Regions from separate parts of the Homo sapiens genome. Here region 1 is linked to region 2. Evidence: fine-mapped expression QTL. A gene starts in region 2. The other region holds a variant in brackets. All regions are shown on one strand. Distances are from middle to middle.

Region 1 (16,388 bases), 120 kb before region 2:
CACACATGACCAACAGGGGTTATTTTGGTGCCAACTCCAGTCAGCTGAGTGTCAGCATGGAGTGCTGAGTTGAGAAAGATCATGAGCAGAATCTGGGCTGGGCAGGATTAAGGGTCTTGATCCATTAGTTATGTCTGCCACTGATACATAACCAGGTATGTTGGCACATGGGCCTTGCATCCCAATCTTACAAAACTACATCTCTTTTCATATGGGACAATACTAAGAAGCAAGCACCACAAGGGCAAGGATTTTGTCTGTTTTCATCCCCGCTATATCCCCAGTGCCTAGAACAGTGTCCTTCAGGGATTAGGATCTCAGTGAATATTTGTTGCATGAATGAGACAATTATGGTTTAGTGGTTAAATGGATTGACTCCAAGCCTGTCCCAATTCTAGGTTTGAATTCCATCTGTGCCACTTGATGGCTGGATAATATTGGATAAGTTGCTTTGTTTAACTTTTCTGAGACTCACCTACTTCATTCGTCTATTCATTTATTCATTCAACAAATATTAGTTGAGCACCTAATGGATGTTGAACACCTAATTTTGGGGATGTACCAAACACTGTTCTAGACACAGGGGACGTAGAAGTGACCAAAATAGATATAGATCCCTGCTGTTATGAAGTTTATATTTTAGGAAGGAGGAACAGAAAAATGAACAAATGAAATATACAACAGGTGTTGGCTGGGCACGGTGACTCATGCCTATAATCCCAGCACTTTGGGAGGCCAAGGCCAGCGGATCACAAGGTCAGGAGATCGAGACCATCCTGGCTAACACTGTGAAACCCTGTCTCTATTAAAAATACAAAAAGTTAGCCGGGCGTGATGGCATGCACCTGTAGTCCCAGTTACTCCAGAGGCTGAGGCAGGAGAATAGTGTGAACCCGGGAGGCGGAGCTTGCAGTGAGCCGAGATTGCGCCACTGCACTCCAGCCTGGGGGACAGAGCGAGACTGTCTCAAAAAAAAAAAAAAAAGAAAAGAAAAGAAATATACAGTAGGTGTCATGTGATGATAAATGCTTTGGAGAAATACTAAATGAGTCAGGGGGCCAGGCGCGGTGGCTCACGCTGTAATCCCAGCACTGTAATCCCAGCACTTTGGGAGGCCAAGACCGGTGGATCACCTGAGGTCAGGAGTTCGAGACCAGCCTGGCCAACATGGCAAAACCCCATCTCTACTAAAAATACAAAAATTAGTTGGGTTTGGTGTAATCCCAGCCTATAATCCCAGCTACTCGGGAGGCTGAGGCAGGAAAATCGTTTGAACCCAGGAGACGGAGGCTGCAGTAAGCCAAGATAGTGCCACTGCACTCCAGCCCGGGTGACAGAGCGAGACTCCATCTCAAATAAATAAATAAATAAATAAATAAAATTTTTAAAAATAAAATGAGTCACAGAACAGGAATTCTGGAGTGAGGTGGGAGAAGATTTGCCTCCTGGCCTATAGGACCATGTGAAGATTACACTCCGGAGTACAAAAGATGGTGAACTTGGTCTTACCCAAAACACCTAGAGCTCCTCTTACCTACTTCCTGGGGAATATTATGTTATATTTGAATATGTAACACAATATAGATATATAATCCTTACTGGTAAGTGTTGTGAGGGTTAAATAAGAAAATATTTGTGAAAAGTTTAACTCTGTGTCTGGTATACAGTGAGGGTTCAGTGAGGAGGTTTATTAGTGTTTTCCTTTCATTTATTCAGTAGACATTTACTAACTATTGACTATACACCAGAACCAGCCACCTGGGGCTAAGTGTTATGACTCAGTTCAGCCAATGCTTCACCTTCCCAACTGGACTGTAAACACGTTGAGGGCAGGAGTTATGTCTAATTCAGTCCCACATGGAAAGTCAGAGCAGGATGGTCTCTCCCATCTTCTGCTTTTGTAGGAGAAGAATCTGAGGCTCACACTTGTTCAAGGCCACATGGCAGGATGAGGCAGTGCCAGAACTAGAACTTGGTCTCTGATCTGGTCTTTCCTCCCCTGTTGCTTCCTCATCCATCCAAGGATCTCCCGAATCCCCGGTTATTAACTCTTGGCTATACCCTTTTATGGGTCCTGCAAGCTGTTGTTAAAGACAAAATTATTAGTGACACTCATTCAAGATGGTAAGGAAGCGTTTATTCAAGGGGGGGGGGCGCATCATGACAGGTATAAAGACCACTTCAATGGGGTTTTGCAGTTGGGGGGACTCAAGTCCACATACAGAATCAGCAAGTGGAAATTTATAGCCAAGGAGCAGGGTGGGGATCACCGGATGAAAAATTACTAAGAGAATACATCAGAAGTAAGGGGAGGGGGGCTTCTGGCTAAGCCAACCTAACATCCTGGCTGAAGGCAAGCCAGGATCATCAGATGTCACCTGGGAGGTGGTGGAGGATGAAGGACCCTATCAGATATTGAGGGTGATCAGACATGGAGGACAGGAGATTCTAGCTAAATCAACTTCACAGGATTCTTGCTGACATTGACCAATGCAGAGATGAACACAGAAGTCAAGGTCTCGTTGAAAAGTTCAAGGCTAGGCCGGGCACGGCGGCTCTCGCCTGTGATCCCAGCACTTTGGGAGGCCGAAGCGGGAGGATCTTCCAAGGTCAGGAGTTCGAGACCAGCCTGAGCAACATGGAGAAACCCCCTCTCTATGAAAAATACAAAATTAGTCGGGTGTGGTGGCACATACCTGTAATCCCAGCTACTCAGGAGGCTGAGGCAGGGGAATCGCTTGAACCCGGGAGGTGGAGGTTGTGATGAGCTAAGATTGTGCGCCATTGCACTCCAGCCTGGGCAACAAGATCGAAACTCCACCAAAAAAAAAGAAAGAAAGAAGAAAGAAAAGAAAAAGAAAAAAGAAAAGTTCAAGGCCTGAGTAGAGTTTGGTCAAGGAATCTTTGTCACTATTCAGCCTGTGATATAAAACCATGAAGTCGTTCAGTCAACTTTTCCTGGAAGTTCAAACCTATCCACAGCTTCTCCAGCCAACTGGAGTCGGGAGTGCCCAGCCAGTTGGATGCTTTGGCATCTGCTCAGAGTGGAAACTGCAGCTGCAGACTTTGCTGCGGTTGTTCAGTCGCCAGTGACCCAGCCAGTCCAGCGGCATGAAACGCCTCCTTCTGACCCATTTGTTTTAACCCCTGTGTTGGGGCCCTGGACTCTAACTTCTCTTTGTACAGAAAACAGCTCTTCCTGCCACCCCTGGCCCCTTTGGGCTCTGTTTTGTCCTTAGCCCTAACTCTCTTTGCCCTCCCTCCACGTCTCTGAACCCTTGCAAGGATGGGAGTGGGAAGTGGAAGACAGGTTTTTCCCTGTCCCTCTTCCTCCAAGAGGTTGCACCCCCTAATGGGCTACCTTCTCATGTCCCCTGTCCTTTGTGTCCTGCTGATCACTCCAACTCAGCACCTGGGCCCCAGAATGCATCTTATGTCTTTTTGACTCATTCTCCAAGCACAGTTCTAGACACATAAACAGACAAATAAATACTTGCTGGCTAATTGACAGGTACAGCAATTTAAGGAAACAAAACAAAAACTGAACGAGAAATGGGACTTGTGACAAGCTGGGAAGACTTCCTGGAGGAAGAAGGACTTATGTTGGGCCTGGAAGAAGGAGTCAAGACCAAATTGATAAGCAAGAGTCAGAGGGCATTGCAGGCTAAGAGAATCAAAGGTGTAGAGGTGAAAATATGTGGGCAGATTAGAATTCCAGACCTAGAGAAGAGGCTCTCTAATAAGTATTTTCAGCTTGTGATCCATTGGTGAGTAATAAAAATTATTTCTTTGGCTACAAATGGCATAGTTAAATAAAATAAAATTAATTAGAACTGAATAAAATAAAAAGGAAAATATCAGAGTGTATCCCGTATAGTAAGAATTATTGGTTTCACGAAACTGAAGTTGCAATTTTACATATAGTATGTATTATATGTGTTTCTGTTTTTGTTTTTTGTTTTTATGTTGTTGTTTGTTTGTTTGTTTTTGAGATGGAGTCTTGCTCTGTCATCCAGGCTGGAGTGCAGTGGTGTGATCTCAGCTCATAGCAACCTCCACCTCCCAGTTTCAAGCAATTCTCCTGCCTCAGCCTTCCGAGTAGCTGGCACTACAGGCATGCACCACCACACCCGGCTAATTTTTGTATTTTTAGTAGAGACAGGGTTTCTCCATGTTGGCTAGGCTGGTCTTGAAATCCTGACTTCTGGTGATCCTCCCACCTCGGCCTCCCCAAGTGCTGGGATTACAGGTGTGAGCCACTGCTCCCGGCCTTATATGTGTATTGAGTCATGATATAAAATGAATCTTTCATGGATTGCAGTAAGAAAAAAAAAAGTTTTAACTTCTTACCAAACCCAGCCTGTTCATTTCACAGATGACGGGGCTGAGGCTTATAGAGAGTTAGAATGGGGCTGGGATTGGACACTGGGGTTTCTGACTCCCAGTGTCCTGTCTCCCCACACCATCCCACCTTCCAGAGGTAAAGGAACAGATCAGACCCACCTCCCAGACTCTATGGCTTCCATTATTTTTGCCATGCCAGGGACACTCAGCAATTATTCATTCAACAAATACTCTCTGAGTATTTGTCCAATCATGGGTTGGACACTTGTGCCAGGTACCGGGATAGTATGGAATTTATGATGGGTGTGTGGGATTTTACTGCCTGACATGGGTTTTCTCCTGGGTTAACTTTTATATTTTTTGTTCAGATTGGAGATGTGAAAGGAAAATTATCCCGACACTTGTTAAAATGGTGAAGATAACTTTAAGACTATTGCAGTAGGGGTGTTGCAACGGATTGCGGGGAATCAGACGCAACTCCAAATACAACACAGATAAGTGGGAATTTATAGCCAAGGAGCTCAGTGACTGGGGGGGTCTGTGGGTGGAAATTTACTATCAAAAGACTAAATTACAACAAATTGGCCAAGTGTGGTGGCTCACGCCTGGTGTGTAATCCCAGCATTTTGGGAGGCCGAGGCGAGCAGATCACCTGAGGTCAGGAGTTTGAGACCAGGCTGGCCAACACGGTAAAACCCGTCTCTACTAAAAATACAAAATTAGCTGGGAGTGGTGGCGCATGCCTGTAATCCCAGCTACTTGTGGGGCTGAAGCAGGAGAATCGCCTGAGTCCAGGAGGCGGAGGTTGCAGTGAGCCGAGATTGTGCCACTGCACTCCAGCCTGGGCAACTGAAACACTCCATCTCAAAATAAATAAATAAATAAAATTACAACAAATTTAGTTTAAAGATCTTAATTGGCATTTATTTGTGATTCTAGAATAGAGCAACACCTCATTCTGTAAAATGTAATAAGTGTTCCCATGAGCCAAGCAGAAGGTTTTAGTTTTATAGACAGAAAAGGGGTGGGGAAAGCAGAAACAGAGAACAAAAGGGGGATTCATTTCCTAGTAAAGGTTAAAGCAGAGGGAACATGGGCCAGGTGTGGTGGCTCATATCTGTCATCCTAGTGCATTGGGAGACTGGGATGGGAGGATCGCTTGAGGCCAGGAGTTCGAGACCAGCCTGGCCAACATGGTAAGACCTCATCTCTATAAAAAATAAAAAATAAAAATTTAAAGGTTTTTTTTTTTTTTTTTTTTTTTTGACAGAGTCTTGCTCTACCACCAGGCTAGAGTGCAGTGGCGCGATCTCAGCTCACTACAACCTCTGCCTCCCAGGTTCAAGCGATTCTCCTGCCTCAGCCTCCCGAGTAGCTGGGATTACAGGCACACGCCAACACACCCAGCTAATTTTTGTACTTTTAGTAGAGACGGGGTTTCACCATGTTGCCAGGCTGGTCTCAATCTCCTGACCCGTGATCTGCCCTCCTCGGCCTCCCAAAGTGCTGGGATTATAAGCGTGAGCCACCACACCCGGCCTTAAAGTTTCTAAAAAGCAGGCCAGGCGCAGTGACTCATGCCTGTTATCCCAGCACTTTGGGAGGCTGAGGCAGGCCTATTGCTTGAGGTCAGGAGTTCGAGACCAGCCTGGCCAACATGGTGAAACGCTGTCTCTACTAAAAATACAAAAAAAAAAAAAAAAAATTAGCCAGACACGGTGGTGCATGCCTACAGTCCCAGCTACTCAAGAGGCTGAGGCAGGAGAATCGCTTGCAAAAGGTGGAGGTTGCAGTGAACTGAGATCATGCCACTGCACTCCAGCTGAGTAACAGAGCAAGGCTTCGTTTCAAAAAAAAGTTTTTAAAAAGCAGAGAGCACTTTGTTATCATGCCTGCCAAAATTGGCTTGTTTGGAGGTTTGGTGTTTATCTGGCTCTCTCCTGGTTTCTCAGAAGGTCAGATAAACAACTTAGTTTTGGCTTGGTAGCATGGGCTTCGGCACGAGGAACTCCATTTCGGTCTGCTCTATTGGGCCTCGTGCAGGAAGTTCAGTTCAAATCAATGTCCTCCTATAAATTTTAACATTACTAAGAGGAGACGTCAAGAATATGGAGATTCTTGTTAAACAGACCTAACAAGATTCTTGCTAAAGGCAGGCCCAGGACATACACATCAAAGGTGGGCGATGAAGAACTTTATCAGATATCCAGGGTAGGGGGATGACTTAGCAGGATTTTTTGCTAGGACTGGGCTGGGCCAACCAAAGACAGGACAGAGCCAAGTTCAAGTTCTAATTGAAAAGACAGAGGAACCTAACTAAAGTTTGCTCAAAAAGAGTGTTTGTCAGTGACAGCATCTATATTTATCTTATTACCTTGTTTATACCAACCCCTGATATTTATATGGTGTTTTCCATTTTTTCTTTTTCTTTTCTTTTTTTTTTTTTTTTGCATGTAATTGCTAGGTGGTATTACTAGATGGAAAAACTGAAATTCAAGAAAATTAAGTCACACAGCTATTCAGTGGCAAACTGGGAACAGAGGCCCAGGTCCCTCTGGTTCAGAGCCCAGACTCTCAATCCTTGTGCTATGTTGCTTCTCATGGAAGCTGGAAAATCCAAATATAATCTTCTGCTACCAAAGCTGCCTGCCACAGTCCTCTTTTGGAGAGGGGAACGTTATCAGCCTGTGCTTGTACTGCTGGCTGAGCCCTATGGTGAGAGTCGAGACAATCACTAAATGCTCTCAGGTCCCGCAGCCTGGTAGGCTCAGATCTGCCTTGGCATCTGCCCACATGGCTATTTATAGAATTGACTGTTTACTGCTGGGGCTGGGCAGGGGCTGGGCTGGGGCTGCGCAGGAAGGCAAAGGGCAGCTCTAAAGAAATAGTCACGTGCTGGGCGCTGGCATTTTTTCAGACACTGGAAGCCCCAAGTTTGGCTCCAAACTCTGGTTCTATTAATCAACCCTCTAATTCATCTCTTCCACTGTGTTCTCTCCTCTGCCCCCATGGCCCAGCCTGGGTTCCTCAATACCTCTGGCCTGGAATTGTGGCAGCCCAGAAAGAAACACATCTAAACGTTAACAGCATCTACCTCCCTGTGGTGAGATCAAGAAGCATTTTTGTTTTCTTCCTTCTATTTTTAAAAAGTTTTCCAGCCGGGCGCGGTGGCTCACGCCTGTAATCCCAGCACTTTGGGAGGCCGAGGTGGGCGGATCACGAGGCCAGGAGATCGAGACCATCCTGGCTAACACGGTGAAACCTCGTCTCTACTAAAAATACAAAAAATTAGCCGGGTGTGGTGGCGGGCGCCTGTAGTCCCAGCTACTCGGGAGACTGAGGCAGGAGAATGGCGTGAACCCGGGAGGTGGAGCTTGCAGTGAGAGATCGCGCCACTGCACTCCAGCCTGGGCGACAGAGCGAGACTCCGTCTTAAAAAATAAATAAATAAATAAATAAATAAATAAGTTTTCCATACCATTGATGGGCATTTAGGTTAGGGGGAGAAAAAAAAAATAGAAAGAAGTTTTCCAAAATGTCCAAAATAAGAATGTTGGGTTTTTCAGGGAGACCTTTGGTGGGTTTATTGCCTTAAGCAGCCCCCTGCCGTCTATGA[C/T]GCACTGTCATGGATTCTGTCCAAGGTCTCTCTTGTGGAATTGGTTCATCAAGGGATTGAATTTTTATTTACTTATTTATTTATTTTGACGGAGTCTTGCTCTGTCGCCAGGCTGGAGTGCAGTGACGCGATCTCAGTTCACTGCAGCCTCTGCCTCCTGGGTTCAAGCAATTCTCCTGCCTCAACCTCCTAAGTAGCTGAGACTACAGGTGCGTGCCACCACGCCTGGCTAATTTTTGTATTTTTAGTAGAGACAAGGTTTCACCATGTTGACCAGGATGGTCTCAATTTCTTGGCCTTGTGAACTGCCCGCCTCAGCCTCCCAAAGTCTGGGATTACAGGCGTGAGCCACGGCACCTGGCTGGACTGAATTTCTTTTATCCCGTTTCCTCCCATTTCCCGCAGCACCAAAAGTAACTCTCCTCTGGGGTACCTCTGGGTGGATAAGTATCCTTAACTTTAAATGTGTCCTTGTGAAATATGTTATACTCTTGTATATATAGACGTTTTCTAATTTACAAAATGGTCACATGTTAGAAGGCTTACTTTGCTTCCTTTTTGACGTGGCACATTGTTGGTTGCTTCTGTTTACTTTCTTTCTTTTCTTTTCTTTCTTTTTTTCTTTTTTTCCAAGACGGAGTTTCGCTCTATTGCCCAGGCTGGAGCGAAGTGGCACGATCTCGGCTCACCGCAACCTCTGCCCCACGGGTTCAAGCAATTCTCCTGCCTCAGCCTCTTGAGTACCTGGGATTATAGGTGCCCGCCACCATGCCTGGCTAATTTTTGTACTTTTATTAGAGACAGGGTTTCACCATGTTGGCCAGGCTGGTCTTGAACTCCTGGCCTCAACTGATCTGCCTGCCTCGGCCTCCCAAAGTGCTGGGATTACAGGTGTGAGCCACCGCACCCGGCCTGCTTCTGTTTACTTTCATAATTGGGGGAAAAAAGGCCTGACAAATGGGCAAAATTTGGGTCTGATGGATTTCCTTTTTTTTTTTTTTGAGACAGAGTCTTGCTCTGTCACCAAGGCTGGAGTGCAGTGGCACAATCTCGGCTCACTGCAACCTCTGCTTCCCAGGTTCAAGAGATTCTCCTGCCTCAGCCTCCTGAGTAGCTGGGATTACAGGCGCCCACCACCACACCTGACTAATTTTTCTATCTTTTAGTAGAGACAGGTTTCATTATGTTGGCCGGGCTGGTCTTGAACTCCTGACCTCAAGTGATCTGCCAGCCTTGGCCTCCCAAAGTGTTGGGATTACAGGCATGAGCCACCCCACCTCACTTGGCCCGGTGGATTATATTCTTGAAAATGATGGAAAGTAGATTTTATTTTATTTATTTATTTATTTTTGAGACAGAGTCTCGCTCTGTCGCCCAGGCTGGAGTGCAGTGGCACAATCTTGGCTCACCGCAAGCTCCGCCTCCCAGGTTCCTGCCATTCTCCTGCCACAGCCTCCCGAGTAGCTGGGACTACAGGCGCCCACCACCAAGCCCGGCTAATTTTTGTATTTTTTAGTAGAGACAGGGTTTCACCATGTTAGCCAGGATGGTCTCGATCTCCTGACCTCGTGATCCGCCCGCCTCGGCCTCCCAGAGTGCTGGGATTACAGGCATAAACCACCGTGCCCGGCGGATGGAGAGTAGATTTTAAGTGTTCTCACCACAAAAATAAGTATATGAGGTAATGCATATGCTAATTGGTTCAATTTAGCCATTCTACAATGTATATGTATATTACAAAACATCACATTGTACATGTTAAATGTATACAATTTTTGACAATTCTAAAAAATTAATTAATTTTAAAAGGAATACTGTATAGCAGGGTTTAAAAGGCAAAACATAACAACAGTTTTGGTGAAAATATGTTATCCCATATGATTGCAGACACATTTTGTTTTATTTTCCCAAGTTAATTCAGGGACCAACATTTACACTGAAAACTGAATAATCTTTTTTTTTTTTCTTTTCCTCCATCGCCCAAGCTGGAGTGCAGTGGTGCAGATCATGGCTCATTGCAGCCTTGACCTCCTGGGCTCACATGACCCTCCTGCCTCAGCCTCCTGAGTAGCTGTGAGTACAGGCATACATCACCATGCCCAGCTAATTTTTTATTTTTTGTAGAGACAGGGTCTCGCTATGTTGCCTGGGCTGGTCTCGAACTCCTGGGCTCAAGCAATCCTTCCTTCCTCCTCGGTCTCCCACAGGCCTGGGATTACGGACATGAGCCACCATGCCTGGCTTTGAACCATCTTAGGGTCAGTTGGTTCAGACAGTGCAAAGACTGCTTCCCTGTGGCCTGACAGGAAAAGTATACCTCTCGGGAATGTTCCTCCTCAGATCAGACCCTCAATATGACAGCACTCGGCCCCAGCATGGGGTAGATCCATCCTGTAGATGGCGGCATCTCACAGTACAAGGGCTGCTGAGGCCAGCTCTACCCAAGGAGCTGAGAAAACCGCCTCCTAAACCCTCACCTACAATTGCTCCTGGCCCTCCCAGGGCAAAAAGAGAACAGACTTCCCCTGTGGGCCCCATCAGCCCTGCCCAGGGGACTGAGAGATCATGGAGCTTCCTTATTGATTCTCTTGTCCAGTGCTGCCCATAGGGAGTCCAAGGACCGACAGCATCTGCTTCCCCTGGGAATTAGTTAGAAATGCAGATTCTTGGGCCCCATCCCAGAATACTGAATCAGAATCTCTGGGAGTGGGGCCCAGCAATCTGTGTTTTGGGGTTTTGTTTTTCAAGTCAAGGTTCTCTCTCTGTCACCCAGCCTGGAGTGCAGTAGCATAATCAGAGCTCACTATAACCTCAAACTCCTGAGTTCAGGCAAGACCTCCTCCCGCCTCAGCCTCCCAGAATGCTGGGATTACGGGCATGAGCCTCCTCACCCGGCCCCAATCTGTGTTTTAACAGGCCCTGTGGGTGACTTCCATGCACTCAGGCGTTTCAGGGGCACCTGTTATCTCCAACTTCCTCATTTTAGGAATGGAGAAATTGAGAACAGATACAGGAAGCAACTTGTTGGTCAGCCAGGCAATGGCAGAGACCACACAAAAACTCCGCTTCCCAGCGTTCCTTCCACTTGAACTTTCAGTAACTTCCTTTCTTTCTTCCTTCGTTCATTCATTCCTTCACTCATTCATGCCTTCCACCTCCAATTACATGCTTTGGGCTGCAATGGAGGACCAGGCGTTTGGGGACAGCCTCACCCTTCTTCCCCATGTGGGGCTTTCTCAAGGCCAGAGGTCTAGGATTCAGGATTGTGGAAGCATCTGCTAGATCTCTTCCAGCTCACCCCTGGGTCTCCAATTCCAGCCCAGATAGGAGTCTGATGTAGGCTGCAGGCGGGCCCCACTCCCCAGCTCCTTCTGGTCTTCTTTTCCTCTTTCTTGGCACCTGGGGCTCTCTGTCCCATTCCTCACTGCCAATGTCTTGCTCTTGGGAGAGATGCAAGGGCTGGAGGCTGTTACTGTTCCATTTCCCAAAGGGATGAATGATCAAATTAAAGGCCCTTCCCAGCAATGGCTTTGCGCTGAAGGAGCCAGGACTAGGTCCAGACCAGGGTTCGCAAGTTAGCATCTTGAGCTGGATAATTCCTTGCTGTAGGGCTGTCCTGTGCATTGCAGAATGGTTAGCAGCATTCCTGGCCTCTCCCTAGCAGATGTCAGTAGAATTCCTCCACCAGGTTGTGACAACCAAAAATGTCTCCAGATATTGCCAAGTGTCCCCTCTGGGTGGTGTTGCCAGATAAGACAGAGAATGCCTGGTTACATTCTTTTTTTTCTTTTTCTTTTTTCTTTTTTTTTTTTTTTTGAGACAGAGTCTCACTCTGGAGCCCAAGCTGGAGTGCAGTAAGGCGATCTCGGCTCCCTGCAACCTCCGCCTCTGTGGCTCAAGCATTTCTCATGCCTCAGCCTCCTGAGTAGCTGGGACTACAACTACGCACCACCACACCCAGCTAATTTTTTGTATTTTAGTAGAGATGAGGTTTCACCATGTTGCCCAGGGTGGTCTTGAACTCTTGATCTCAGGCAGTCCATCTGCCTCTGCCTCCCAAAGTGCTGGGATAACAGGCGTGAGCCACCACGCTAGGCTGAGCATTCTAATCGCACATAAGCAACAAGTAATTTTTAGTGCCTGAATGTCTCAACTATTGTTGCATTACCTCACATACTTATTTTTGTGGTGAGAACACTTAAAATCTACTCTCCATCATCTTCAAGAATATAATTCATTGGGCCAGGTGGGGTGGCTCATGCCTGTAACATTTTTTACTTGAAGAATCTTGCAACTCTACCTCAGGGGCAAAATCTTTCTTCATTGGCCCAGATCAGGGTCTGGGGTGTGGGGAGCAGTTAGTGAGAGGATCTGATGAGATAATCATAGGCCATGAGTTTACAAGGGCAAAAACTTTGCCATAATCATCTCTGTATCCTTAGAATATAATGGCGTCTCATTAAATATTTTATCTGAGAGTGGGTGTGAGGACACTTGGAACTATATCAGATACCATACCTGAGTACATCCAGCCCAGGACTGGACATTAGGGACATACTCCCTAATAAATATAAACTGAAGATAATGTTTAGTTTGACTCACATAGCATTTTTTAAAGGTGTGACTTTGGGCTTTACATTCTAAAATTGGCAACTGGCTGAGCATGGTGGCTCATGCCTGTAATCCCAACACTTTTGGAGACTGAGGCGGGAGGATTTGCTTGAGCCCAGGAGTTCAAAACCAAGCTAGGCAACATAGTGAGACCCCCATCTATACAAAAAAATTAAAAAAAAAAAATAGCCAGGTGTGGTGGCACATGCCTGTTCTGCCGGCTACCTGGAAGGCTGAGATGGGAGGATCACTGGAACCCAGGAATTTGAGGCTGCAGTGAACTATGATCGTGCCGCTGTACTCCAGCCTGGGCAACAGAGCGAGACCCTGCCTCAAAAAATTAAAATAAAATAAAATAAAGTAAAATAAAATAAACAGGAAGTGGCTGGGCGTGGTGACTCACCCTGTAATCCTAGCACTTTAGGAGGCCAAGGTGGGTGGATCACTTGAGGTCAGGAGTTCAAGACCAGCATGGTCAACATGGCAAAACCCTGTCTCTACTAAAACTACAAATTAGCTGGAGGTGGTTGTGTGCACCTGTAGTCCCAGCTACTCAGGAGGCTGAGGCAGGAGAGTTGCTTGAACCCAGGAGGCAGAGGTTGCAGTGAACCGAGATTGCGCCATTGCACTCCAGCCTGGGCAATAGAGCGAGACTTGGTCTCAAAACAAAAACAAACAAACAAAAAACAAAACACACACACACACACACACACAGGAAGCTATCACATAAGTCAAGATTTCTGGTATCTCTTGAAAAATACAGCACAACTTCCAAATGCTTGGAATATCTGACAATTTGCCTATACTCCCAAGCAGAAAAGCTTGGCTGGAACTAAGAGGTACCTGCCCCTCTCTACTGGCCCAGATCAGGGTCTGGGGTGTGGGGCAGATACCTCTCAGCTGGGCCAGTAGAGAGGGTCAGGTACCTCTCAGCTCCAGCCAAGCTTTTCCACTTGGGTCCTGTGTTCCCCCTATTACCCACAGTCCCTACCACTCCCTATTGCCCCACACCAGGATCCATCACCCATTATGTTAATCTGCCTGTAGGCATTTGCATTTCAAAGCTCTGGCCTAGTGGTGAAGAGGCATTGGAATGGCATGTCCTTTTAGGTGATCTACTGTAATGTTGGTGCATTATCCCCATTTTACAGATAAAGAAACTTGCCTTTGGGGAAGTTAAGTGAATCAACATTTTAACGAGGCTGTATTAGAACCCAAGTCCCTTGACTCCAGGGTCTAGGCCCATGCCCCACCCTGGCCAGAGTTCGTTGTAAGAGATAACTCAACCGCAGGGGCAAGAGCATTGTGGCACCAGGGACCTGGAGGGGAAGTGGTAACAGGCACGGAAGGCCAGACCTCCTCACACTCACTCATCTGTGAGAAAGTACAAAAGCAAGAGAAAGCTGGCTTGGGGTGGCACTCAACAGGTGCTCTGAGTGGCACCCACGGCCAGGTCCTGGGAGAGGACAGAAAACAACTGGGACTCCTCAGCCCCCGGCAGCTCCCAGTGCCCAGCCACCCACAACACAACCGTGAGTAGCTTTTTTTGTTGTTTATTTTAGGCTTCTTCCTCATTCCCCAACACCTGTATTCTTTTTTGTTTGTTTGTTTGTTTTTGAGACGGAGTTTTGCTCTGTTGACCAGGCTAAAGTACAGTGGCACAATCTCGGCTCAGTGCAGCCTCACAGGTTCAAGCGATTCTCCTGCCTCAGCCTCCCGTGTAGTTGGGATTACAGGTGTGCACTACTGCGTCTGGCTAATTTTTGTATTTTTAGTAGAGACAGGGTTTCACCATGTTGGCCAGGCTGGTCTCGAACTCCCGACTTCAGGTGATCTGCCCACCTTGGCCTCCCAAAGTGCTGGGATTACAGGCATGAGCCACTGCACCTGGCCAAAACCTGTATTCTTACCTTATCCCTTCCCTCCAGGGACACAAGAAGCCAGGTGGGCCTGTCTGGGGCAGGGGATAGATGTCATTTCAGGACACCTGGGGTTGTGGAGGACCAGTCGCAGGAAAGTTCAGGGCTGGCATCCCCCTCCTAGGACCAAGAATCAGGACTTTGGCTTTCATTTCATTACAGAGACAAGAATCACACACACAGAGATGGCCTTACTGTGTGCCAGGCGCTGCCCTAAGAGCCTTTAGTGGTTGGATTTATTTAATCCTCACAACAGCCGTATGCAGTAGGAGCTATCACTGTTGTCCACTTGATAGGTGGGGGCTAGGTGACCCACCTGAAATCATGCGGGCATTGAATGAGAGCATTGGCTTGAGCCTAGGCACTCCGGCTTCGCGGCCCACCCTTCAGCCACCAGGCTATCCTGCCTTACGAGGTGTGGACTGCAACAGTAGATGGGGGCCAGGAAATGACAGGGGCTGGCAGAGGCCTTTGAGATGACCAGGTGAGTCCTGCGCTCTCATTTTATAGATGGGGAGACCACAAGGTAGTGTTAGGGGCACACTGGACTCAGGAGGCCAGGGGTCTGCTTTGGTGTAAGTTCCACTCAGCGGAGGGAAGAGCAGTATTTTCCAGTGTGCCCTGGGGTCAGCGTCCAGGTCTGAATCCCAGCTCTGCCACTGGTAGCTCGATGGCCTAATGCAAATCACTCCATTTCTTTCCTGCTCAGCTTCCTCTTCTGAGAAACATGGGCCTGAGAAGGTCACTCACAGGCTTGTTGCGAGTCAACTGTCTGATGCGGGCACAGGGCGGGCAGCAGCACAGGGCTCGGGAATGGCTGTGGTGGAGAGTTTGATCTTCACCCCATCTGCTCTTGCTGTGGATCTGAGATGAGGATAAAATGAGGCCTGGCTGCTTTTCCCTGGAATGAGTGGCAAGTAGACACGTTGGCAGCATGAAAACCAGGATGGAGGCTGGGGAGAAGTTCAGGGAGAGCTCAGGAGGTGGAGTCCCAATAATCCTGGCCCCAGCTCTGTAACCACCTTGTGGCTTACCAGAGTGACCCCCTAACCTGCGCTGGGCAGGTGAAGCATATCCTTTACCCTTTGGCCGGCTAAGGCCAGGATAAGGCAGTGAAGACGGGAAAATGGCAGCCTGGCTCAGCCAAGCAGAGCCCTCCAGCGCCAGCCCCCTCTCTTCCCACCTCATTTTACAGTACCAGTCACTCTTACTGCACACCCTCGGGTGTGCATAAATTGATCTTTTCTTTATTCAGTTGAAGTCACATTCAATAGGACCCTGAGCCTCATCCTACTGGGCTAGGAGGAAATTTAATCTCCAAGTGCACTGAGCTTCCCTCACTCCCATCCCCACCCATGCACATTGACCCAGAGGACACACAGAACATAAGCGTGAGGGAGGCTCCTGGGTCCTCCTACGATGGATGCCCATTGCCCAAATGGACTTGATTGTCTGAAGTCCAGCCTTGCCCACTTCCCTGGCATGCCTGGAGTCCAGATTCTTTGTAAGACCTGAAACCACTGTGTCTCATTTTGACATCCAGGATATATCACCCAGTGACTTCCCCCAGAGGTCCTGCCATCTTCCCAGAAAGCAAATTCTAGGTGCCCAAGACCTCGGTCCCCTCCCAGCCAAGGACAATCTCTCCTCTCCCCTTGGCTGTGGATGGCAGATGGACACTCTTCTCTCCCCACCCCCCACCCACGTGACCTAACCTTCTCACTGCGCTCAGGTTCTCAGGAAAGGACAGGAAGAAGGGTTGTCTTCAAATAGCTTCTGCTTCCTACTCTCACCCCTGAAAAAAGTCCCCGAGCCACGAGACACAAAGGGCACTCTGAAAAGAGACAGGCAGCCCTATCTTACAGATGAGAAAAACCAAGACTCAGCAGCAGTGTTGA
Region 2 (8,208 bases):
GCATAAGAAGGCTGGAGTGTCAGGGTGACTTTGACAGTTCAGTCCTAGGAGACACCAGGAACATGGAAGGGGCCCTGGGAAGGGTCAGGTTCATGACCTGAAATGAGTCAGTTCTCTCTTGGCTTTGTTTTGTTCTCTGTAAAATGAGGACAGTAGCGTTAGACAGCTCACCAGGGATCCGCCAGAGTCCACCAGGGCCCTCAGTGGCGGGACGGAAGCAGAATAGCATCTGTGCTTAAAGATCAGATGGAACTGGGTTTAAAGCCTACTCCTGCCACTCCCAGGCTATGAGACCTCAGACAAATTATTTCATCTCTCTGAACCTAAGAAATGGGAATAATAATGCCATCCATCTCATGGAGCCATTGTGAGGATTAAGTAAGAAAACGTACGTAGAGGGCCAGGCGCACGCCTGTAATCCCAGCACTTTGGGAAGCCAAGGCGGGTGGATCACCTGAGGTCAAGAGTTTGAGACCAGCCTGGCCAATATGGTGAAACACTGTCTCCACTAACAATAGAAAAATTGCTGGGCACGGTGGCTCACGCCCGTAATCCCAGCACTTTGGGAGGCCAGGGTGGGCAGATCACCTGAGGTCAGGAGTTCGAGACCAGCTTGGCCGACATGGTGAAACCCCATCTCTACTAAAAATACAAAAATTAGCTGGGTGTGGTGGCACGCACCTGTAATCCCAGCTACTCGGGAGACTGAGGCAGGAGAATTGCTTGAACCCAGGAGTCAGAGGTTGCAGTGAGCCAAGATCACGCCACTGTACTCCAGCCTGGCGACACAGTGAGACTCCCTCTCAAAAAAAAGAAAAGAAAAATTAGCTGGGTGTGGTGGCACACACCTGTAACCCCAGCTACTCGGGAGGCTGAGGCAGGAGAATCACTTGAACCCGGGAGGCAGAGGTTGCAGTGAGCTGAGAGCGTGCCATTGCACTCCAGCCTGGGCGACAAGAGCAAACTCTGTCTCCAAAAAAAAAAAGAAAGAAAAGTTATGTAGAATGCTTATCACAGAGCTGAGCACAGAGTGCACTTCAGCAAATATGAGCTACTGTATGAACAGAGGGTTTCTGTCTGGCCCTTTCAGTTGGTGTTTTTATCCCTCCCTCTCTGCCTCACAATTGTCACTTGAATATCAGTTTTTTACCTCTGTGGGCCAGGCCCTGTGCTGGGCCCTGAAGAGGGAGTACTGAACAAGACTGATAAGATCTGTGCCCTGGTAGTGGCACTACAAACCATGACAGAGATTGGGCATCTTACATGAGGGGGAGTCAGAGGAATAACCCAGGTGCCAGACAGACAGGAGCTCACAGGCAGCTGGTGCCCCGCTGTCAAGGAAAAAGCCTGTTTATCTTCACCTTTACTTTTCAGTATCACAGTTGTCTGTCCATGCTGATGTTTTCCCTGGTGTTGAGGGCATACCATGACTTACCGCATCCTCTAACTTGTTTCTCAAAGGGTGTGAATCTCCAGAAGCTTCTGGAAGCTGGAAACTTTATCTGTCAAGCCCTGAACAGAAAAACTAGCTCCAAAGTGGCTCAGGCTACCTGTAAACTCTGAGCCCCTTGCCCACCTGAAGCCCTGGGGATGATGTGGAAATAGGGGCACACACAGATGATTCATGGATGGGGACATGGAAATGAGAATAGGTTAAATGGTGCAGGTACCTCATAGCCAGCTCTACACAGAGGTCTCTCCTGGCAGAAAGCAGGCGAAGGGCAGGAGGAGCTGCTTGGCAGAAGGACCTCCTGCCCAGACCTGAGGAGTGAGAGGCTTTGAGGGCTGAAGTCTCCCTTTGTTACGGACCCTGGCCCAGGAGTTGAATGCCTGAGGACGTGTGGGAACCCCGTTCCCTACTTAGCATGATCCTTGAGTCTCCTCTCTGGATGGAATCCGCGAGCTGGCCACCTGGCCACCCTCTACACGGCTCCACCCTGCCATGGCCGTGGGGCCCTTGCTCTCTGACTTCTCAGGACACAGGTCATGGAGGTTCTTCCCAAGCTGGCAGAGGCCATTTGTGGAAAGTGGAGAGCTACGTGGTGGCCGTCTGCCAACTCCAGCATCTCTGGAAAATCTCCACGCTGAATGTGATTTTTGAAAACAGCTTATGTAATTAAAGGTTGAATGGCACATCATAATTCCAGCATTCGGTTGTGCAGCTGTGTGTATACATGCGCGTGGGGGAGTAAAATACTTTACCATGTTGCACTCTGAGAGGAAAATGGAGACTATGAACTAGTTTATTAATCTTTGGATTTCCTCCCTGTTTCCCCACCTGAGCCCCAAATCCATAGTGACTGGAAATCAGTGGTTTTGGGCTTACTCAGGAGGCTGCTTGCGGCAGTTGCTGGCCAGAACACCCGACGGGGTTGTTTCTGAGCTTTGCCTCTGTGACTGGGGCTATTGCACAAGCTCCCCTGAGGACACACTTGCTGCTTTGGGCCTCGGTGGCCCGGCCTCTCCCTGGCGCTCCCGGGCCCGGGAGCGCTCACCTGTCGGTTCCCTGGACTCTGCGGGCAGGCGCTGGCTGATTCCCGGCTGCGCGGACACCTGTGCGCTCCTGCATTTAGGGCTCCTTTGCTCTGGTTTCATCACGCAGGATGTCACATTTTGTGCATATTATTCTCTAGCTCTACTACTTTTCATTGTAAACAAACAATCATTTTCTAACCTGCCGTCGTGGAAGGCAGAGTGCAGACCGACCCTTCCCGGCAGGTGGGGGCTGAGAGCCAAGAGCGCTGGAACCGCTAGTGTGGCCTGACAGCTTCCTCCAGCTCCTTGGTTTATTTGCAAACTGGACTTCCAGCACCAGGCCCCCTGCGACCCCCTCCTGCCTTAGTCCCGTGGGATCGGGTAGTTCAAGATTTTGAATTCATGGTTTGGCACACACCGGCAAGTCTGAAAACCTGCGGGTCAGAGTGGGGCGGAGGCGTGGGCCCCCTACCCTCTGCCCCCTGCCCCCTCGGAAGCGCAGCCCTCTTCCAGGGGTTGGGACGAGCTAGCGCGGGGACCCGGGGCACCGGCAAGGACCCACCCGCTACTGGGACCTGGCGCCGGCGGCGCCTCTCGCGGGGTGGCACCGCCCACTTCCGCCTTCCGCGGGCGCGCGCTGCGCAGTCTTCGTCACAGCGCGGAGGCCTTTTGTCCTCCCGCCCTCCCCGTAGTGGCCGTAACCCGAGTGACATGTTTCCTTGGGGGCGTGGAGGGGCGGGGTCGGGGCCGGAGTGGGCCGTCAGCACTTAAAGGGCCCGCGGCTCGGGCGTAGGAGGCGGTGCCTCTGCAGCAAGCGTGGGGCGCGGGAACCCGAGCAGGTTCGGGAGACGGAATGAAGGGCCGGGTGGGCTCGCGAGGGGCCGGGGAGTCCGCGGGGAGCGAGGGAGTTTCCGAGGGGCGGGTCGTGTTCCTGGCAGCGTCCCTCCAGGGCAGGCCCGCCCCCTTTGTCCCAGTTCCCCGCTGCCCGGGCTGGGGCGGCCGGGGTTCATTCATTGCCGGCCTGAGGACTCCTAGCTCGGCCCCGCTCCGCGCTACAGCCCAAAGCCCAGCCTGAGACCCAGCCGCCCTCGTATGCCCACGGCCTAGCTCCCCTTCCCTCCAACAGACAGACTGGGAAAACCGAGTGGGCGACGGCTGAGCAAGGTCACTCCGCTGTCGGGGGCGCAGCCGGCCTCAGACCAGCTTTCGTGCTTCCCAGGGCCTCTCTGCGACCACTTTCGGGGTCCGCGCCAGGCGCGGGGCGGGGGCGGGGGCGGCTTCGGCGCGGCGGGCAGAGTCCAGCGGGCAGCGGTGGGGGAAGGGCGAGCCGCCTGGGGAGAGGGCCGGGCTGCGAGCCTGGCGATCCAGATTCCAGCCCGCTGTCGCCAGCTGTGGGACCGAAGGGCAACTGTTTCACCTCTCTGGCCCTAGTATCTGTATCTGTAAAGTGCCAGTGATAACACCTGTCTCACCGAGATGCTGGGGGAATTCAGGAAAATCATGCAAAAGTGCCTGGTACGGAGCCTGGCACGCAGAGGGCTCTTGGTCAAGTGGGTTGGAGCTGCGTGAGCCCAGAAGGGGATAGAGGCAGCGTGGAGGAAGGCGGCAGCGGGCCCGGTCGCTGGGAATGAAAGGCCTCAGTGTCTGGGGCTTCCTCCCCGTACTACCCGCAGAGTTTGTTCAGGGTGGAGGTGCGCACCTGGCCAAGTCCACGTCTACACGGCCCACCCAGAGTAGCCTAAGTTGGGCGGGATTCCTAACTCTGAGCCAGGAGTGACCGGGCTGGCCCTGGCATGGGCAGAGGCTGAGCGGGGGTTGGGGTGGGGCCCCCTCCAGGACCAACCACGGTGTGGTTGCCCCTGAGCTGGCCTCAGCCTGCCTGGCAAAGGACCTCACCCTTGAGGCCATGTGATCTATTTCCTGCTTCCTCCCAGCTGACCCTTGAGGGAAAGGGGGTGGGGGCCGCCTAGAGCAGGAGGTATTAGTCACTGCGCCCAGGAGCCAGTTTACACCTAGCGAAGGCGGAGGCATTGGACAAGCCTGGGTCTGAGCAGACAGAACCCCTTCCTGCGACCCTGGAGTCCCAATCGTGCTGCCATTTTCCTTCTGCCCAGGACTCTCCAGTCCTCAGTCACCTTGGACAAAGAAGTGTGGATCCTCAGATTCCATCTTTTCCAACTCCAAGGCAAGTGGAACTAGAAAATAAGGTGCCTGTGTGTCAGGTCTCCCCAGCTCTGCTGTGGCGGGCCCTTAAGATCACCTCACTGAACCCTCACGCTGCCTCATGAAGTTTATACAATTATTAGCTCTGTTTTACAGAGATAGAAACTGAGGCCAAGAGGCTAATTAATTTCCAAAGCCTAAGGCCAGAAAGTGATGGTACCCAGACTTGCCCCAGGGCTGACTTCTGAGCCAGTCTGGTACCTAGGGCACACTGCCGCCTCCTTCCAAAGCGAGCTTAGGGGGCAGGATTCCAGTGGGAAGGAAGCTCTGAGCAGGCAGCCTCAGCCACCTCTGAGACTCTGTATCCTGGGCCAGGTGCCATGGCAGAGAAGGTGCTGGTAACAGGTGGGGCTGGCTACATTGGCAGCCACACGGTGCTGGAGCTGCTGGAGGCTGGCTACTTGCCTGTGGTCATCGATAACTTCCATAATGCCTTCCGTGGTGAGCGGGGCAGTGGGGCTGGGGCTACTTGAGGGGATGGCAGAAGCAAAACCCTGGGTTCCACCTCCACCACCGGGCGGGGAATGTGTGTCTGGCTAGTCCCTGGGAACACAGCACCCCATGTCGTGATGATGTGGCCTACATGTACCCTACCAGGAGGGGGCTCCCTGCCTGAGAGCCTGCGGCGGGTCCAGGAGCTGACAGGCCGCTCTGTGGAGTTTGAGGAGATGGACATTTTGGACCAGGGAGCCCTACAGCGTCTCTTCAAAAAGGTGGGTGCAGGCTGGGCACGGTGGCTCACGCCTGTAATTCCAGCACTTTGGAAGGCCGAGGTGAGGAGATCACTTGAGCCCAGGTGTTCAAGACCAGCCTGCTCAACACAGTGAAACCCCATCTCTACAGAAAAATACAAAAATTAGCTGGGCATGGTAGCCCATACCTGTGGTCCCAGCTACTCGGGAGGCTGGCATGGGAGGATGGCTTGAGCCTGGGAGGTGGAGGTTGCGGTGAGCTGAGATGGCACCACTGTACTCCAGCCTGGACAACAGAGCGAGACTGTCAAAAAAAAAAAAAAAGGTGAGTGCAGGCAGGCAGGCTGAGGGCATTGCCAAGGACTAAAACCAGTAGAGCAACCTCTGGCCATGTCACCCCTGCAGTACAGCTTTATGGCGGTCATCCACTTTGCGGGGCTCAAGGCCGTGGGCGAGTCGGTGCAGAAGCCTCTGGATTATTACAGAGTTAACCTGACCGGGACCATCCAGCTTCTGGAGGTGAGAGGCATGGGACAGGGCACAGACACTAGGAGGGTGTCCAGCTGGACCCCAGCCTGGCAGGCAGTGCCAAACACAGAGCCCAAGCTGTATCATCCTGGACTCATGTCTTTACCTCCCAGTCTCAGTTTCCCCATCTGTAAATGAGAGTGCTCATCACCTCAGCCCCATTCTCCTGTGGAGGAGTAACAGGGTGGGAGTAATGTGTGAGGCAGAGGTCACTGATGCCATCTCTCCACGGCCAGATCATGAAGGCCCACGGGGTGAAGAACCTGGTGTTCAGCAGCTCAGCCACTGTGTACGGGAACCCCCAGTACCTGCCCCTTGATGAGGCCCACCCCACGGGTGGTTGTACCAACCCTTACGGCAAGTCCAAGTTCTTCATCGAGGAAATGATCCGGGACCTGTGCCAGGCAGACAAGGTGAGGGCCCCCTTGACAGTGCCCTGGCTCCACTGATCGATGGACTCCTCAGGGCCCACCCTGAGCCCAGGGGTGGGATTCCGAACACCCCCACTAAGGAGGAAGCTAAGGCTCAGGCAGTTGCAGTGGAGGGCCCCATCCCCTGCTTGTTTCTAAAGATAATAAATAGACAACTGGCCGGGCGCAGTGGCTCATACCTGTAATCTCAGCACTTTGGGAGGCCCAGGTGGGCAGATCACCTGAGGTCAGGAGTTCAAGACCAGCCTGGACAACATGGTAAAACCCCCATCTCTACTAAAAATACAAACATTAGCCGGCCATGGTGGTGTGTGCCTGTGGTCCCAGCTATTCGGGAGGCTGAGGCACAAGAATTGCTTGAACCTGGAAGGCAGAGGTTGAAGTGAGCCAAATCAGGCCACTACACTCCAGCCTGGGCCATAGTGAGACTCCATCTCAAAAAAACAGAATAGGCATGAGGAGGGCTCTGGGTTCAGCTGGGACACGCTGCCTGTGCCTCTGGCCTCACCACCTGACCCACATCCCACAGACTTGGAACGCAGTGCTGCTGCGCTATTTCAACCCCACAGGTGCCCATGCCTCTGGCTGCATTGGTGAGGATCCCCAGGGCATACCCAACAACCTCATGCCTTATGTCTCCCAGGTAAGGCAAAAGGGAAGGGACAGAGGAGTGGCCCTGGGGTTAAAGCTGGTGCCTGGGATCTGGGACGAACTGACCTGATCTCCACCTCCAGGTGGCGATCGGGCGACGGGAGGCCCTGAATGTCTTTGGCAATGACTATGACACAGAGGATGGCACAGGTGAGCCTAGGACCAGGGGGACCTAGGAGTGGGAGCCAGGAAGGAGAGTCAGGGGGAACAGACTCCCCATCCAACACACTCCCTTCTCTGCAGGTGTCCGGGATTACATCCATGTCGTGGATCTGGCCAAGGGCCACATTGCAGCCTTAAGGAAGCTGAAAGAACAGTGTGGCTGCCGGGTAGGAAGAGAAGGGAGAAGTGAGGGAGGGGAGGGACCAGATCCAGGCAGAGCGGCCCAGAGGCGTGGTCAGTCCAGCCCGCTCCATAAACCCTGTTCTCCGTGGGCCAGATCTACAACCTGGGCACGGGCACAGGCTATTCAGTGCTGCAGATGGTCCAGGCTATGGAGAAGGCCTCTGGGAAGAAGGTAGGCCCCCCCGCCCCACCCACCTCACCCACCTCACCCCACCCAGCTCTCAGCAACAGAGCAGCTTTGGCCCTTCCCACTCACCTCTCTGGAGGGTACCTGGCACTGCCCAGTCTCCTCAGCCTGCCTAGCACCCGGTGCCTGCGGGCCAGCCGCTGCTCTGCACTTCTGCTTCTTAAAGACCTGGCCAGCAGCTGGGCCAGGGCCGGCTCAGCTAAGCTCCAACTACCTCCTGTCTTGCAGATCCCGTACAAGGTGGTGGCACGGCGGGAAGGTGATGTGGCAGCCTGTTACGCCAACCCCAGCCTGGCCCAAGAGGAGCTGGGGTGGACAGCAGCCTTAGGGCTGGACAGGATGTGTGAGTGCTGGCCTGACCCCTGCAGTTAGGGGCCAGGGAGGGGCTAAATCAGATCTGGGCATGCCCACCCAGGGCGGGCTGTGGGGTGGGGGAGGCTCTGCATTCCACCGTGGGCCCTGAGCACACACCTCGCCGTGTTGCAGGTGAGGATCTCTGGCGCTGGCAGAAGCAGAATCCTTCAGGCTTTGGCACGCAAGCCTGAGGACCCTCCCCTACCAAGGACCAGGAAAAGCAGCAGCTGCCTGCTCTCCAGCCTCTGGCAGGAACTCAGGGCCCTGGAGCTGCTGGGGCCAAGCCAAGGCCTCCCCTACCTCAAACCCCAGCTGGGCCCGC

The links.
Region 1: its variant is fine-mapped to the expression of GALE in whole blood (TOPMed, PIP 0.99).

What each region holds. Positions count from the first base shown.
Region 1 is chr1:23,910,961-23,927,348 of GRCh38, reverse strand. CNR2 (cannabinoid receptor 2) reads left to right here and starts at 13,987. Exons shown (of 2, transcript NM_001841.3): 1 at 13,987-14,103. RefSeq lists enhancers at 10,259-10,308, 13,661-14,175, 14,949-15,118. The variant C/T (reference allele first, on the strand shown) is at 7,961.
Region 2 is chr1:23,795,818-23,804,025 of GRCh38, reverse strand. GALE (UDP-galactose-4-epimerase) reads left to right here and starts at 3,272. Exons shown (of 12, transcript NM_001008216.2): 1 at 3,272-3,314; 2 at 4,590-4,660; 3 at 5,014-5,139; 4 at 5,296-5,411; 5 at 5,796-5,909; 6 at 6,155-6,331; 7 at 6,879-6,992; 8 at 7,084-7,150; 9 at 7,244-7,329; 10 at 7,440-7,517; 11 at 7,761-7,875; 12 at 8,019-8,208. The coding sequence starts at 5,019. The coding sequence ends at 8,077. HMGCL (3-hydroxy-3-methylglutaryl-CoA lyase) reads left to right here. Exons shown (of 9, transcript NM_000191.3): 9 at 1,462-2,141. The coding sequence ends at 1,563. RefSeq lists silencers at 2,862-3,071, 3,232-3,711, 3,762-3,861.